Linked DNA regions of Homo sapiens. The protein of the gene in region 1 purifies or fractionates together with the protein of each later gene. This does not show direct contact. Each region holds a gene or a part of one and is shown in the gene's direction. Other genes may lie near its edges.

Region 1 (3,500 bases):
ACCTTGAAGAATTTGTATTCCTTTTGGATGTATGTATAGCTGCTTAAGCCACTTTCAGACTTAGATTATCTTTTATAAATGTGCCTTCCATACAGAATTCTGAAAATATTTACCATGGACAAAGAAGCAGATTTAAATCAGGTACAGACAAGAATTGAAAGTGTTGAATAAGTGAATATATTTCCCATTCTCTCTACTTTTTTCTTAATTCTTATAGAACTTTGCAGAAAGAATGATACATACCACAGTACCAGCAAGTTTAAAGCGTACCCTTTTGTGCAAAAATAAGAGGTTATCTTTGAACTGCCTTAAAAATCCAAAATTACCCTATCAGTTTGCAAGTATTAATCAACTCTGGTACCTGACCAAAGGAGTTTAAACAATGATGTCCTAATTAAACAGAAAACCAGATTAACCATCTTGTTGAAAAGAGTCTCTACTTTGGTTTTGAAATCTTACAATTCAATACATACACATACACATAAAAATATCTATCTATATGAATGTAATAGTTTACAGTAGGGCTGTGCTTACTGCTTTGAGGTATGTGTTTTTAAAACCAAACTTGATTTATTTATTTCTTAGGCAAAGTAATAGGAAAAAATGGAAAGCTGATTCAGGAGATTGTGGACAAGTCAGGAGTTGTGAGGGTGAGGATTGAGGCTGAAAATGAGAAAAATGTTCCACAAGAAGAGGTATGTTACAGTGCGAATATTTTGTGGCACATATAATAAAAGTAAAAGTTTTTTATGTGATATGTTGAGGACCTCTAATATGTGCATAAAGTGAATGCAAATATTCTGATTATCAAGCATGCCTGCTGTAATTAATGTTATAATTGTAGATAATGGCCCTTCTCTGTCCTCTAATGCAGTGAGTTTGGATTAGTCACTTTATTGAATTCTTTTTTCCTGATCTTTAAAATGGGTAGTTATAAATTTTTAAATATGAGACATACATCACTGGGTCGAGTGTTAATGGCAATTTAATAAAATAATATATATGTAAATGCTTCGTAAAGCACTTTGTAAATGTTAATGTTGCTGACAAAAGCAAAATTGGAACACAGGTTTTCTGGCTTTCATCTTTTCACTTTTTTAGTGTGGGGATTGTGTAGTATGTGTGTTTATTCTGTGTGCTTTAAATTTATTTCTGTGCTTAATATCTCTTCCCCATCCTCCTTACCTTTAAATTCTGTAACCCTTTTATCTTCATAAATATATGCTTTTTGTAGCAGCTTTTAAAGTATTTGCATGGGGTAGAGAGGTGAGGATGCACCTTTCTGTGCAATAGTACTCTTAAGATACTGTCTCATCAAAGAGCCGTAATTTTCACATATTGTCTAGCTTTCTTTTTGAAAGATTCTTTTAGCTAAAGTTAAATCTTTTTTTTCTGCGTACAATTTGTATTCGGTAATTTTATAAACCAAAACTGTTTATAATAACTTACATTTTTTAAAAATATGATGATTGATAACACTAATAGAGCTAAATAAAGTCTTAAATTGGTCCTTTTTTTCTCTTTTGTGTTTTCTGTTTTTTACCAAGGAAATTATGCCACCAAATTCCCTTCCTTCCAATAATTCAAGGGTTGGACCTAATGCCCCAGAAGAAAAAAAACATTTAGATATAAAGGAAAACAGCACCCATTTTTCTCAACCTAACAGTACAAAAGTCCAGAGGGTAAGAATTACTTGTCACTTTGAATTACAATACAAGTAATTTGTCTCAGATGTCACAATTGGTATTTTGGATGTTTTCTCTGGTTAGACTTGTAGGCTACTTATGTTCTATTTTTTTTCCAAATGTAATTGCCAGCTTATGAGATACTACAAATTAGTGTGATACATACTTTTCAATTTATTCACAGTAACAACTCTTATGCCATAAACACAAAATAATGGGGTTGCATTTAGTGGTCACATTTTTCTTTTGACAGTGGACTCTCTTTTTTCCATGCCTTCTCTCTTTAAATTTTGCAGGTATCGTAGCTCAAAATACACCTTCTGTTAGTTGCATTAGTTACTACTTGAACCATATTTTAGAAACTAATTTTCTCTGTTTGAACTAATCTGTTTAGAAATGGGTTTAAAAGTCCTGCAGTGAAAGTCCTGCGTTCAGGCTTCTGTGTATCGTTTGTTATAGTTAATGACATCCCTTGCATTCCTTATACTGCTTTAGGTGTTAGTGGCTTCATCAGTTGTAGCAGGGGAATCCCAGAAACCTGAACTCAAGGCTTGGCAGGTAGGAAAACATTCCTTGAGAAATACACTTTCAGTTTATATTTTAATGTTTATTCCCCTTGTTAACAAAGATTACAAATGATCCTCAGGATTAGGGACTGGAGGGAGGAGTGTTTGTGGGTATGTGGATCCATTGCCCTGGAGTTAAAGCTTAAACACCTTCATGCCGCTTGTAAGGCTTTTCCTAATTACTTGTCTAGTTATCATCTTTAAATTATCTTCTCCCTTGCACTCTAGAGAACCTTAAGCCATACTGAAGTACTTTGAGTTCTCTGAACATTCTCGTGCTTATTTTGCTTCTAGACATATGTACAGGTTTACTCTGCCTGGAATGCTTTTTCTCCTCCACATGTCACCTCATTTTGACCTTATTCCTTACAAAGCTTTCCTTGTGTACTTGCCGAAGATCCCCACCCCCTTGACTGGTTCAAGAGCCTTCCCCTTCTGTTTTGCAATGTGCTCACCCCTAGCATAGCACTTAAACATAGATGTTTATTTGTTGATCTCCTCAACCACATTGTAAGTTCTTTGAGGGCAGGGAGAGCTGGTGAGAACTGTTTATGGAAAAAAATGTTGTGGACTCATGGATTAAAAGCAAAGGTGCCATTTTACAAAGAGGACTATAACGGCAAGTGGATTGGATATGTCTCATTGCCGGGCAGCCCATTATTCCAGAACACAGAGTAACTTTTTTCTGGGGTCCGTACTAAAGGCCATCATTCCATTCTTGCCTTTCTTCATTTTAATTTACTATTCAGGTCTACTCGTGAAGTGCTTAAATTAGAGTGGCCCTTGGGGTACTCCAGCAGTTTAGACATGTTGCAAGAAAAGATATTCGTAAATAATTTGCTCCGAAGTCAATCTAACTAAATCTGTTACATAGGATTTTAAAGCTATTTTGGTGATATTTGACCCAGAGGGAAGGGTGTAGCATTCATTCCATCACATGGTATTTTGGGAAATAATACAGTTAAAGGCTTTTGTAACAAATAAAGCTTGTTGGAGAAAAACCCAACATGCAGAAATGAATTGCCAGTTATTAATTTGCACAATTGTTTCTAGGTTTCCCTATAACTTGTGACAAGAAGTAGTTGTTTTTTTTTTCCCTCTTAATATATATATATATGGGCTAGGAGTACAGACATTTAGCATATGCCTTTTAAAAATCTGTTCTTATGTTAAGTAGTGTCCATAGAGAGAAGTTCAAACTTTCCTTGTGATTCAGCCTTTTAAAATTTTCAGAGTACATTATTGAAAT
Region 2 (3,500 bases), on another chromosome or scaffold:
CTTTATGACTTTGTCAGAAATTGGGAATTAGAGCATACCAACAATCTTAAAGTCATTAATTTAACCATCAATCTGTTGATCCTTATGGGCACCAATAATTTAAATTGGTTGCCTTTGTGGGGTTTCAGACATTACAGGAAAAAAGTAGTAAAGGGGGAAATTAGTAAATGCTTCAGCTATCACTTAGTGTCACAAGTTTTCTTATTTCTTACATGTTGCTTAAAAGCGGTCTTAACGTGTGTGTATTTGGTTTTTAAAGATTCTTTGAAAATAAAGATAGTTGTTAGGGCAAATTTTTTAGAGGACTCTCTCCATGCATAATAAGTAACTGTTTCCTAACTTGGAAGTACTTAGGGATGTGGGAGTGTGTACAAACATATATACACTTACATGCTATAAAATTTTAAACTTTAATAGGGGAAGATGGCCCTTTTTGTGTGCCTGTAGCTAAGAAGACCAAAAGATGACACTTTTTCTGGTTAAATGGCTGTTTTAAACTGAAGTGATGTTCTCTAATAATCCTAAATGCCATATTTTCCTTTCAGATTTGTAATTTTATAGAATTATGAGTCTTAATTGCATTTTTTTTTCAGATTAGATAGAATAACATAGTGCGGCCCTCACTTTTGTGAGGGGCCATATCTAGTGAGTGTGTTGATTTGCTTGGTTATTTATGAATGGCTGCTGGTATTTTCTTTGGTATTTTAAAAGCCAAAATGTATTGCTTGCCTAAAATTTTTTAAATTTAAAAGTTTTTATTAAGAGACTATCTTGGAAAGTGACGGGAATAATGGTTGCCCAAATGATTTCCAAGTCAGTTATAGAAAATGCTTTTGAGGGGGAGAACTTGGCAAACTTAAATAGAAGTTTAAAATAAGTTTATTGTTTTTATTTTATTTATTTATGTATTTAGTCGGTGGTATGGATTGGAAGGTTTATTGTCTTTAAATGGCAGTTTTCCTAAGGTACTTTGTTACACATTAGAGTTGCCCAGTGTTTGCTTTTTTCCAACAGGAAATGGTAGTGGATTGGAAGAGAAGCAGCTTTTGACAGTCCAGGCCTAAAGTTTTTGGATTGCAAAAATAATTTGCTTATGCAGGTTATCTTATCGTTTTAGGAATAAGACGAGTTGGAAGAAGACCTGATCAACAACTTCAGGGTGAAGGGAAAATAATTGATAGAAGACCAGAAAGGCGACCACCTCGTGAACGAAGATTCGAAAAGCCACTTGAAGAAAAGGGTGAAGGAGGCGAATTTTCAGTTGATAGGTAAGTTGTTTCTTGTTTTTGAGCCAGGGTCTTGGTCTAACATGTAGGCTGGAGTGCAGTGGTACAAGCTTGGCTCACTGCAGCCTCTGCTTCCTGGGCTCAAATGATCCTCTCATCTCAGTCTCCTCTTGAGTAGCTCGGACTACAAGGTCACGCCACCACACTGCTAATTTTTTTTGTAGAGCTGAGGTCTCACTATATATATTGCATTGGCTGGTCTTGAGCTCCTGTGCTCAAGCTGTCCTCCTGCAATATTGGGATTACAGGCGTAAACCAAAGAAGTCTTCATATTTTGTTACTTTATAGAGTCACATTTTAATGTTAAGCTATAAATTGGGCATAATTGCCAGGTAGCAGTCTGGCTAATTGTTTCTATTAATTTTTCACAGAAACATCTGTATGTGTGCATTGTTAAGCTTTAGATCTTTGGGTAACAGTTCAAACTTAGGTCTCTTGTAATGGAAACACTTTGTTGAATTGATAACCAATTTCTTTTTCTTTCTCTCTCCAGATACAGAGTTAAAAGGAAAATACTGTTAGTTGAAGGAAAATACTGTTGGTTTATTGTTTATAGCAAATAAATTACTTATGCAAGTTAGATGTGTTTAATTTTTAAGTGTATTGGTAAATAGTGATGGACTGGATTATATGTGCAATGAATAGCAGTGGAAAAGTATATGCACTGGTAGTAATGCTTTAGAGTGCTAAAATAGTTTTCTTGTTTTGGGAGGCTGTCTTGTTCTGGTTTCCTTTGTGTTTAGAAACAGACTATTTTGAATTTTCTGAAGTGTATGTATTTAACTATTGGTTTTTGAGCCAGTAAACATGTTCTGTATTTTTGATCTTTTGGATGAATTTTCCTCATTTCTTCTGGAAACCATGGAAGTATAATTTATTTGTTTATATTATAGACCGATTATTGACCGACCTATTCGAGGTCGTGGTGGTCTTGGAAGAGGTCGAGGGGGCCGTGGACGTGGAATGGGCCGAGGAGATGGATTTGATTCTCGTGGCAAACGTGAATTTGATAGGCATAGTGGAAGTGATAGATCGTAAGTCTTACTGGTTTTTATTTTACTTTAATATTTTAATCTATTTAATAAACAAACTTTGAATTTCTAGAACTAAAGAGTATTATGTTAACTCAGTTTTGTTAGTTCTTTTTCACATTACAGTGGCCTGAAGCACGAGGACAAACGTGGAGGTAGCGGATCTCACAACTGGGGAACTGTCAAAGACGAATTAACGTTGGTATTCTGATTTTCTTAAAAATTCTATACCTAACTAGAGGTTAATCCATACCTCTGTCAAATTTTACTTGTCTCTGAGATAAGAATGAATGCTCTCTTCTGAGAGTTACTATATTACAAGATAATGTCTTATGGGATGGGTTTGGGTTATAGTATATTGAATGACCGGTTTTTTAATATTTCGATATATTTGTTACTCATTTTTTCCCCCCCATATGTATTTGTAGCTTTTCCTGAAACCCCACAATAAGGTTATTTGGGTATTCTGATTATCTTAGTGTCCTTAATAGTTCCTATTCTAGCTTTTGACTTTGTTGTCATTACAAAATTTGATAAGCTAGTAAAGCTTCATTTTATAATTAACTGCCTTGTTCTGTTACTTTTTAAGTATGAAGTATATGAACTAACTAGTTTATATTGTTTACTTTTCGACGTCTTCTGGGGAGTATATTTAGTAAGAAAGGAGTTAGAGAATGTGAGAGCTTATGGTATTTTTGTATGAAGAACTTTTCAGCTACATGTAAATGGACCTAGATGCCTTTCTTTTTCTTTCTTTCCTTAGAGAGTCCCCCAAATACATTCAGAAACAAATATCTTATAATTACAGTGACTTGGATCAATCAAATGTGACTGAGGAAACACCTGAAGGTGAAGAACATCATCCAGTGGCAGACACTGAAAATAAGTAAGTGGTATTGCGTGTAATAGTAATGACCCAGAATTGAAAGCACTGGAGTTTTACCAATAAGATAACCCATAGATTTAATGCTGTTACTTGATGGCTTTTTGTTTTTGACAAGGGAGACTTACTGTACCCTCATCCCTCAAAGAGTATTTGAAAGAATGCTTTTTTTTTCTTTTTTTAATAGAGACAGGGTCTCACTATATTGCCTAGGCAGGTCTCCAATTCCTGGGCTCAAGCGTTCCTCCTGCCTTGGCCTCCCAAAGTGCTGGGATTACAGGCATGAGCCACTGCACCCAG
Region 3 (3,500 bases), on another chromosome or scaffold:
ATTTTACCTGTATATGAAATTCTAGGTTCAAAATTATTTTCTTTCAGCACTTTGAAGCTATTACTGAATTGTACATCCAGTGTCGCTGTTAAGAAATGTGATGTTATTCCCATGCTTGAGTCTTTGTAGGTGATCTACTTGGCTTCCTGGAAACTTTAGCATTTCTTCTATATTTGATCTCCTAGGAATTCCCTCAAAATATCCTGTAATATTTCTTTTCCTTTTTTTTTGAGACTGTCTCACTCCATAGCTCATGCTGGAGTACAGTGGTGCAATGATGGTTCACTGTAGCCTCAAATTCCTGAGCTCAAGAAATAGTTATGTCTCCACCTCCCAAGTAACGGGGACTACAGGCACGTGCCACCACGCCTGGCAAACTTTTAAATTATTTGTAGAGACAGGGTCTTGCTGTATTTCCCAGGCTGGTCTCAAACTCCTGGGCTCAAGCGATCCTTCTGTCTTGGCCTCCCAAAGTGCTGGGATCACAGGTGTGAGCCACTGCACCCACGCAGCTGCTTGCTTGCTTGCTTTTTTTTTTGAGATGGAGTTTTGCTCTTGTTGCCCAGGCTGGAGTGCAATGGCACAATCTCAGCTCACCGCAACCTCCACCTACCAGGTTCAAGTGATTCTTCTGCCTCAGCCTCGCGAGTAGCGCTTGCCTCACCATGCCCAGCTACTTTTGTATTTTTAGTAGAGATGGGGTTTCTCCGTGTTGTCAGGCTGGTCTTGAACTCCTGACCTTAGGTGATCCGCCCGCCTTGGCCTCCCAAAGTGCTGGGATTACAGGCGTGAGCCACCACGCCTGGCCAACTGCTTTATTTCTTAACTTTTCTCTCATTCATTTCATTTCTTGTCTTTCCTGGTGCATTCTGAGTTTCTCAACGCAGTTTTTGCTCATTAATCTTTTATTTAGCTGTATGTATTTCAATTAACCTCATTCACTTAATTTTTATTTGAGCAATTGTATTTTTCATAACAAATTGCCTCAATTGGTTCTTCCTCAAAACGACTTTTTTTTTTTTTGAGACAGAGTCTCGCTGTGTCACCCAGGCTGGAGTGCAGTGGCATGATCTCATCTCACTGCAGCCTCCACTTTGCAGGTTCAAATGATTCTACTGCCTCAGCCTCCTGAGTAGCTGGGATTACAGGCATGTGCCACCATGCCCAGCTAATTTTTTTCTATTTTTAGTAGAGACAGGTTTCACCATATTGGCTAGGCTGGTCTCGAACTCCTGACCTCAAGTGATCTGCCTACCTTGGCCTCCCAAAAAGTGCTGTGATTACAGGCTGTGAGTCACTGCCCCTGGCTAAAACAACTTTTCAATATTATCCTTATCTTTCTGAGCAAATCCATGTTTAATTTCAGTTATTCTGCTCCTTCTGGTACAGACTGTTCTGTTTATCAGGGTGCCTGTGTTCCTCCAATCTCTGGTGAGTTTTATGCGTGCACTCACCTTTTATTCCCTTGGGACTCTCAATTGCATTGGCTGGTAATGTGTAACTACGAGGAGGACGGAAGCCTGATCCGTAGTTTTTCTTTCTTTTTTTTTTTTTTTTTTGAGATGGAGTCTCGCTCTGTCACCCAGGCTCGAGTGCAGTGGCACGATCTTGGCTCACTGCAAGCTCTGCCTCCTGGGTTCACGCCATTCTCCTGCCTCAGCCTCCCAAGTAGCTGGGACTACAGGCACCCGCCACCACGCTCAGCTAATTTTTTTGTATTTTTAGTGGAGGCGGGTGAAAACCGTGTTAGCCAGGATGGTCTCAATCTCCTGACCTCGTGATCGGCCCACCTCGGCCTCCCACAGTGCTGGGATTACAGGCGTGAGCCACCGCGCCCGGCCAGTTTTCCTTTCTGTAAATGAATTTAGGAGGTTGAGGTTAGCCTCAGGGTTCAGCCTCTCCCTTTTGCTCTCTGCTGTCCTCTCTGGCTCCAGGGAACCTCCTAGCACCAACTGTATGGACTCTGCCTTTATCTGAGAGCAGCCATCCCAAGAAGTTCTAGGATGCCAAACTCATGGAGTTGATGGGGCGTGGTTCTGGAGCAACTGTTTATTCCCCCATCCAGCCTGGCTCTGGCCATTACCCACAGGGGTCAAAGGTCAAGCAGTTAAATCTCTTGGGCATTGTGTATAGACAGGAGTAGATGCTGCTAGAAAACCCCCTTTCCTTGGCCGAGTGCGATGGCTCACGCCTGTAATCCCAGCACTTTGGGAGGCTGAGGCGGGCGGATTGAGACCATCCTGGAGCCAGGAGATCGAGACCATCCTGGCTAACATGGTGAAACCCCATCTCTACTAAAAAATACAAAAAATTAGCTGGGCATGGTAGTGGGCGCCTGTAGTCCCAGCTACTCGGGAGGCTGAGGCAAGAGAATGGCGTGAACCTGGGAGGTGGAGCTTGCAGTGAGCCGAGATTGTGCCATGGCACTCCAGCCTGGGTGACAGAGCAAGACTCTGTCTCAAAAAACAAACAAAAAATTGAGTTATTAACAAAAATTACGTTACTAATATAATGCATCTACCGGAAATGTATAAAAAGTGTGAACTGGTAAATTTGAGGCTACTCAGATTTAAACTTTTGGCTTTTGGGATGCTCTCATTTTCATATGCTTGGATTTACTCTGGGCTTTTTTTTTTTTGAGTTAGGGTCTAACTGTGTTGCCCAGGTTGGAGTGCACAGTCATAGCTCACTGCAGCCTCAAACTTTCAGGCTCAAGCGATCCTCCCACCTCAGCCTTCTCAGTAGCTGGGACCACCAGCCTATGCCACCATACATGGCTCATTTTTTATTTTTTTGTAGAGATGGGGTCTTACTATGTTGCCCAGGCTGGTCTCAAACTCCTGGGCTCAAGGGATCCTCCCACCTCCGCCTCCTCAAGTGCTGGGATTACAGGCATGAGCCACTGTGCCTGGCCCTTGGGCTTTCTTGTTGCAAGCTGGTGCTTACCTGCCCACTGTGGTTGCCCTGCACTTATAACCTACATCTTTCTTGAAACAAATGTTATAGGTAAAAATAAACATGGGGTGATCATTTTGTTTTTTGGGTTTTTTTGTTTGTTTCTTTTTGAGATGGAGTTTCGCTCTTTCGCCCAGGCTGTTATGAAGTGGCAGAATCTTGGCTCACTGCAACTTCCACCCCCCAGGTTCAAGCGATTCTCCTGTCTCAGCCTCCAGAGTAGCTGGGATTACAGGCACATGCCACCATGCCAGGCTCATTTTTGTATTTTTATTTATTTATTTATTTATTTATTTTATTTTTTGTTTTATTTTATGTTTTTTTAGATGGAGTCTCGCACTGTAGCCCAGGCTGGAGTGCAGTAGTGCCATCTTGGTTCACTGCAACCTCCACCTCAAGCAATTCTCCTGCCTCAGCCTCCCAAGTAGCTGGGATTACAGGCACATGCCACCACACTCGGCTGATTTTTGTATTTTTAGTAGAGATAGGGTTTCACAATGTTGGCCAGGCTGATCTTGAACTCCTGACCTCAGGTGATCCATGCG
Region 4 (3,500 bases), on another chromosome or scaffold:
ACCTTTTTCTGTAAAACCAGGGATAAGAGCACCTACATCCTAAGGTAGTTTAAGGTTTACACAATATATGAAATGTTTAGAAAAGTGCCTAACACATGGGCAGCACAAAATTAGCGTGCTGGGGGTATTCAACAGACTATGGATGAATCAGACTAAGACCATGCCAAATTCATAAATATATTCCTTTTAGTGTATGATTTCTCCCACAAAATTTAGTATGGGTGTCTTGTCTTAGAACATTTAGTGGCTGTGTAAGAAGACAACTATTTAACCTTAAGCTGTAGTTTTTTTTTTCTCTTTTTTTTTTTTTTTTTTTTGAGACAGAGTCTCACTCTGTCGCCCAGGCTGGACTGCAGTGGCGTGATCTCAGCTCACTGCAAACTCCACCTCCTGGGTTCAAGCGATTCTCCTGCCTCCGCCTCCCGAGTAGCTGGGATTACAGGCATGTGCCGCCACGCCCAGCCAATTTATTTTTAGTAGAGATGGGGTTTCACCATGTTGGCCACACACTCAAACTCCTGACCTCAAGTGATCCGCCCACCTTAGCCTCCCAAAGTGCTGGGATTACAGGCATCAGCCACTGTGCTCCTGGCCAAGCCTTAGTTTTTTTAGCCTTAAAGTGTAACAGTAACTAGTAACAGTGCATACAGTTCTCTCCCCACCCCACCTCTCTCCCTTAAATCAAACAAAAAAAATCACTTTCTTTGACTTCTATTTTCTCTGGGCCATTTTTTCACTAAAAACCCAAAGCTGCTTTCACTTATGTGAAGAATGGGAAACGAAGGAGGTGCTTTGAGATGTGGGTGGTTAGGTGAAGAAAGAAAATCATGTGAAGAAATTTATTCCTTCACAGCAGCCTTGTGATCCAGGCAGTTCAAATCTTAACTCAGAATTGTTGAAAACTGCTTCCTATCCCAAACTCTCAGGGTCACTTTTAGTTTGAAATCTTAAAAGATAAATACAAACATGTCTTTCCTTGGTGCTGAGCTTTTAGTCTTATAAGTAGAATTACTGTCCTGCAACTCCTATGATGTTTGTATGATAGGAACTTCAAAGTTCTTTCCCTGTATTCACTAATAAAACTCATGTTTTATAGTTAACTTAAATGTAACACTTAAGCCATAGTAGTTAAATTTTATTTATGTGATTGGTGACAATGCTAAATGAATGTTTTACTTTAGAGATCTAAGGAATGGTAAACCACCTACCCCGTATTTTTCCTTACAAATTCAAGAGCTTCAGTTTTGGAGGATAGTGTATATCCCTAGTGTCTTTTTGACTGTCTTAAGTAATAGTAATATCTACGTCATTGGCCTGAGGCATTAAGGATCATTGGAATATAGGGTATCAAGATGAATTTTGTTTTGTCGGTAGTGCCCTAAAATGAGCTCAGCTTTCTGAATCAGTGAACGCGTGTTGGGTACTATTGTTTTTTGTGGTTTACCCTGGCAGCTTGTCAAACCAACTCTCAGGCTCCTTTCTGCTTTGCTGTATGTAATAGGTTGTTTATATATAATAGGTTGTTTATATAGTTGCATGCAGTAGGTGATAGGATGTATTGACTCTAAATATCAGAAGTGTCTTGGCCAGGCGCGGTGGCCCACGCTTGCTATCCCAGCACTTTGAGAGGCCTAGGTGGGTAGATCACTTGAGTCCAGGAGTTCCAGACCAGCCTGGCCTACATGGCAAAACTCCATCTCTACTAAAAATACAAAAATTAGCCAGGCATGGTGGTGGATGCCTGTAATCCCAGCTACTTAGGAGGCTGAGGCAGGAGAGTCACTTGAACCCAGGAGACAGAGGTTGCAGTGTGCTGAGATCGCACCACAGAGAAAGAGACTCTGTCTCTAAAAAAAATAAAATAAAAAAATAAAAAAAAATAAAAGGCAGGGCACAGTGAGTGGCTCATGCCCATAATCCCAACACTTTGGGAAGCCAAGGTGGGTGGATCACCTGAGGTCAGGAGTTCAAGACCAGCCTGGCCAACATGGTGAATCCCCGTCTCAACTAAAATAACAACAAAAAATTAGCTGGGTGTGGTGGCGGGCACCTGTAATCCCAGCTAGTTTGGGAGGCTGAGGCAGGAGAATGGCTTGAACCCGGGGGTCGGAGGTTGCAGTAAGCCGAAACCATGCCATTGCACTTCAGCCTGCATGACAGGGTGAGACTCTGTCTCAAAAAAGAAAAAAGTGTCTTACCTTGATGTTGTAGCCTCTTTAAAATATTCAAAGGAAAAACCACCTTTCTAAGAGTATGAAACACATTTAAATTGAAAACATTTTTCTCAGCAGGTTTCTAACTGGCCCATGTAGATGTGAGCTTGACTTTTAGTGAGCTTGGCATAGCTGACTCTGCAGTTCTGTCTCTTTTGCTCAAAAAAAATGTGACCAGGTGTGGTGGCTTGCACTGGTAATACCAACACTTTGGGAGGCCAAGGCAGGACTCTTGAGCCCAGGAGTTTGTGATGAGCGTGGCAACATAGCAAGACCCCCATCTCTATAAAAATTAGTGGCGCAGTGGCTCACACCTGTAATTCTAGCACTTTTGGAAGGCTGAGGTGGGCACATCACTTGAAGTCAGGAGTTCGAGACCAGCCTGACCAACATGGTGAAACCCCATGCCTACTAAAAATGCAAAAATAATTAGCCAGGTGTGGTGGCTAGTGCCTGTAGTCCCAGCTACTCAGGAGGCTGAGGCAGGAGAATCACTTGAACCTGGGAGGCGGGGGTTGCAGTGACCCAAGATCGTGCCACTGCACTCCAGCCTGGGCAACAAAGTAAGACTCCGTCTCAAAAAAAAAAAAAAAATAAGTCAGGTGTGGTGTTGCATGCCTGTAGTCTGCTACTCAGGAGGCTGAGGTAGGAGGATCGCTTGAGCCCAGGAGGTTGAAGCTGCAGTGAGCTATGATTGTACCATTGCACTCCAGCCTGGACAACAGGAGGACCCTGACTCCAACAAAAAGGAAAGAAAAATGCAACTGATGTCTCATGGCCAGCATGAGAAGTTTTACCTATCACAATTTTAGTACGAATGGCCATTTGCCCACAAAAATTCGTTTTTATTAGGTTATTAATTGCCTTTAACTGTTTTCATCAGAAGAATATGGTTTATCCTTCTTTCACCAAGCATTCAGTTGCCTCTACTGTGATGGGCAGTAGTTATTGTCAACCTTTTAGGACTTCTAACTGCTCTCTTCTATGTTATTTTCAACAATCTATGAAATGTAGATGTATCACTGCAAAGGGCTATCCCACTTGGATTTGGGCCATCTTTCAAGTTAACTGACCTTTTCCATTTCATACATGAATGACACTAATAGGATGTGTTTTCATCTGCAGGCTCAGGGAAGAATTTATGGAAAAATTAAAGAAGAAAACTTTGTTAGTCCTAAAGAAGAGGTGAAACTTGAAGCTCATATCAGAGTGCCATCCTTTGCTGCTGGCAGAGTTATTGGAAAAGGAGGCAAAACGGCAAGTACTTCAGCAAAACCTGTGCAGTGG

What was found. Proteins that work in one complex are often made in the same cells at the same time.
Region 2: the proteins of FMR1 (region 1) and SERBP1 purify together in Homo sapiens (co-immunoprecipitation; 2 studies listed by IntAct, with this or other methods). This does not show direct contact.
Region 3: the proteins of FMR1 (region 1) and BCL7B purify together in Homo sapiens (affinity purification with mass spectrometry; 3 studies listed by BioGRID and IntAct, with this or other methods). This does not show direct contact.
Region 4: the proteins of FMR1 (region 1) and IGF2BP3 purify together in Homo sapiens (affinity purification with mass spectrometry; 2 studies listed by BioGRID and IntAct, with this or other methods). This does not show direct contact.

Annotation. Positions count from the first base shown.
Region 1 is NC_000023.11:147,935,919-147,939,418, forward strand, and holds part of FMR1 (fragile X messenger ribonucleoprotein 1), read left to right. Parts: intron 1-585; coding exon 586-695; intron 696-1,547; coding exon 1,548-1,682; intron 1,683-2,180; coding exon 2,181-2,243; intron 2,244-3,500.
Region 2 is NC_000001.11:67,423,903-67,427,402, reverse strand, and holds part of SERBP1 (SERPINE1 mRNA-binding protein 1), read left to right. Parts: intron 1-1,117; coding exon 1,118-1,268; intron 1,269-2,179; coding exon 2,180-2,320; intron 2,321-2,425; coding exon 2,426-2,515; intron 2,516-3,080; coding exon of another isoform or gene 3,081-3,125; coding exon 3,126-3,203; intron 3,204-3,500. UniProt on the Homo sapiens protein: Ribosome-binding protein that promotes ribosome hibernation, a process during which ribosomes are stabilized in an inactive state and preserved from proteasomal degradation.
Region 3 is NC_000007.14:73,544,191-73,547,690, reverse strand, and holds part of BCL7B (B-cell CLL/lymphoma 7 protein family member B), read left to right. Parts: intron 1-3,500. UniProt on the Homo sapiens protein: Positive regulator of apoptosis. Plays a role in the Wnt signaling pathway, negatively regulating the expression of Wnt signaling components CTNNB1 and HMGA1.
Region 4 is NC_000007.14:23,313,492-23,316,991, reverse strand, and holds part of IGF2BP3 (insulin-like growth factor 2 mRNA-binding protein 3), read left to right. Parts: intron 1-3,338; coding exon 3,339-3,470; coding exon of another isoform or gene 3,471-3,500. UniProt on the Homo sapiens protein: RNA-binding factor that may recruit target transcripts to cytoplasmic protein-RNA complexes (mRNPs). This transcript 'caging' into mRNPs allows mRNA transport and transient storage.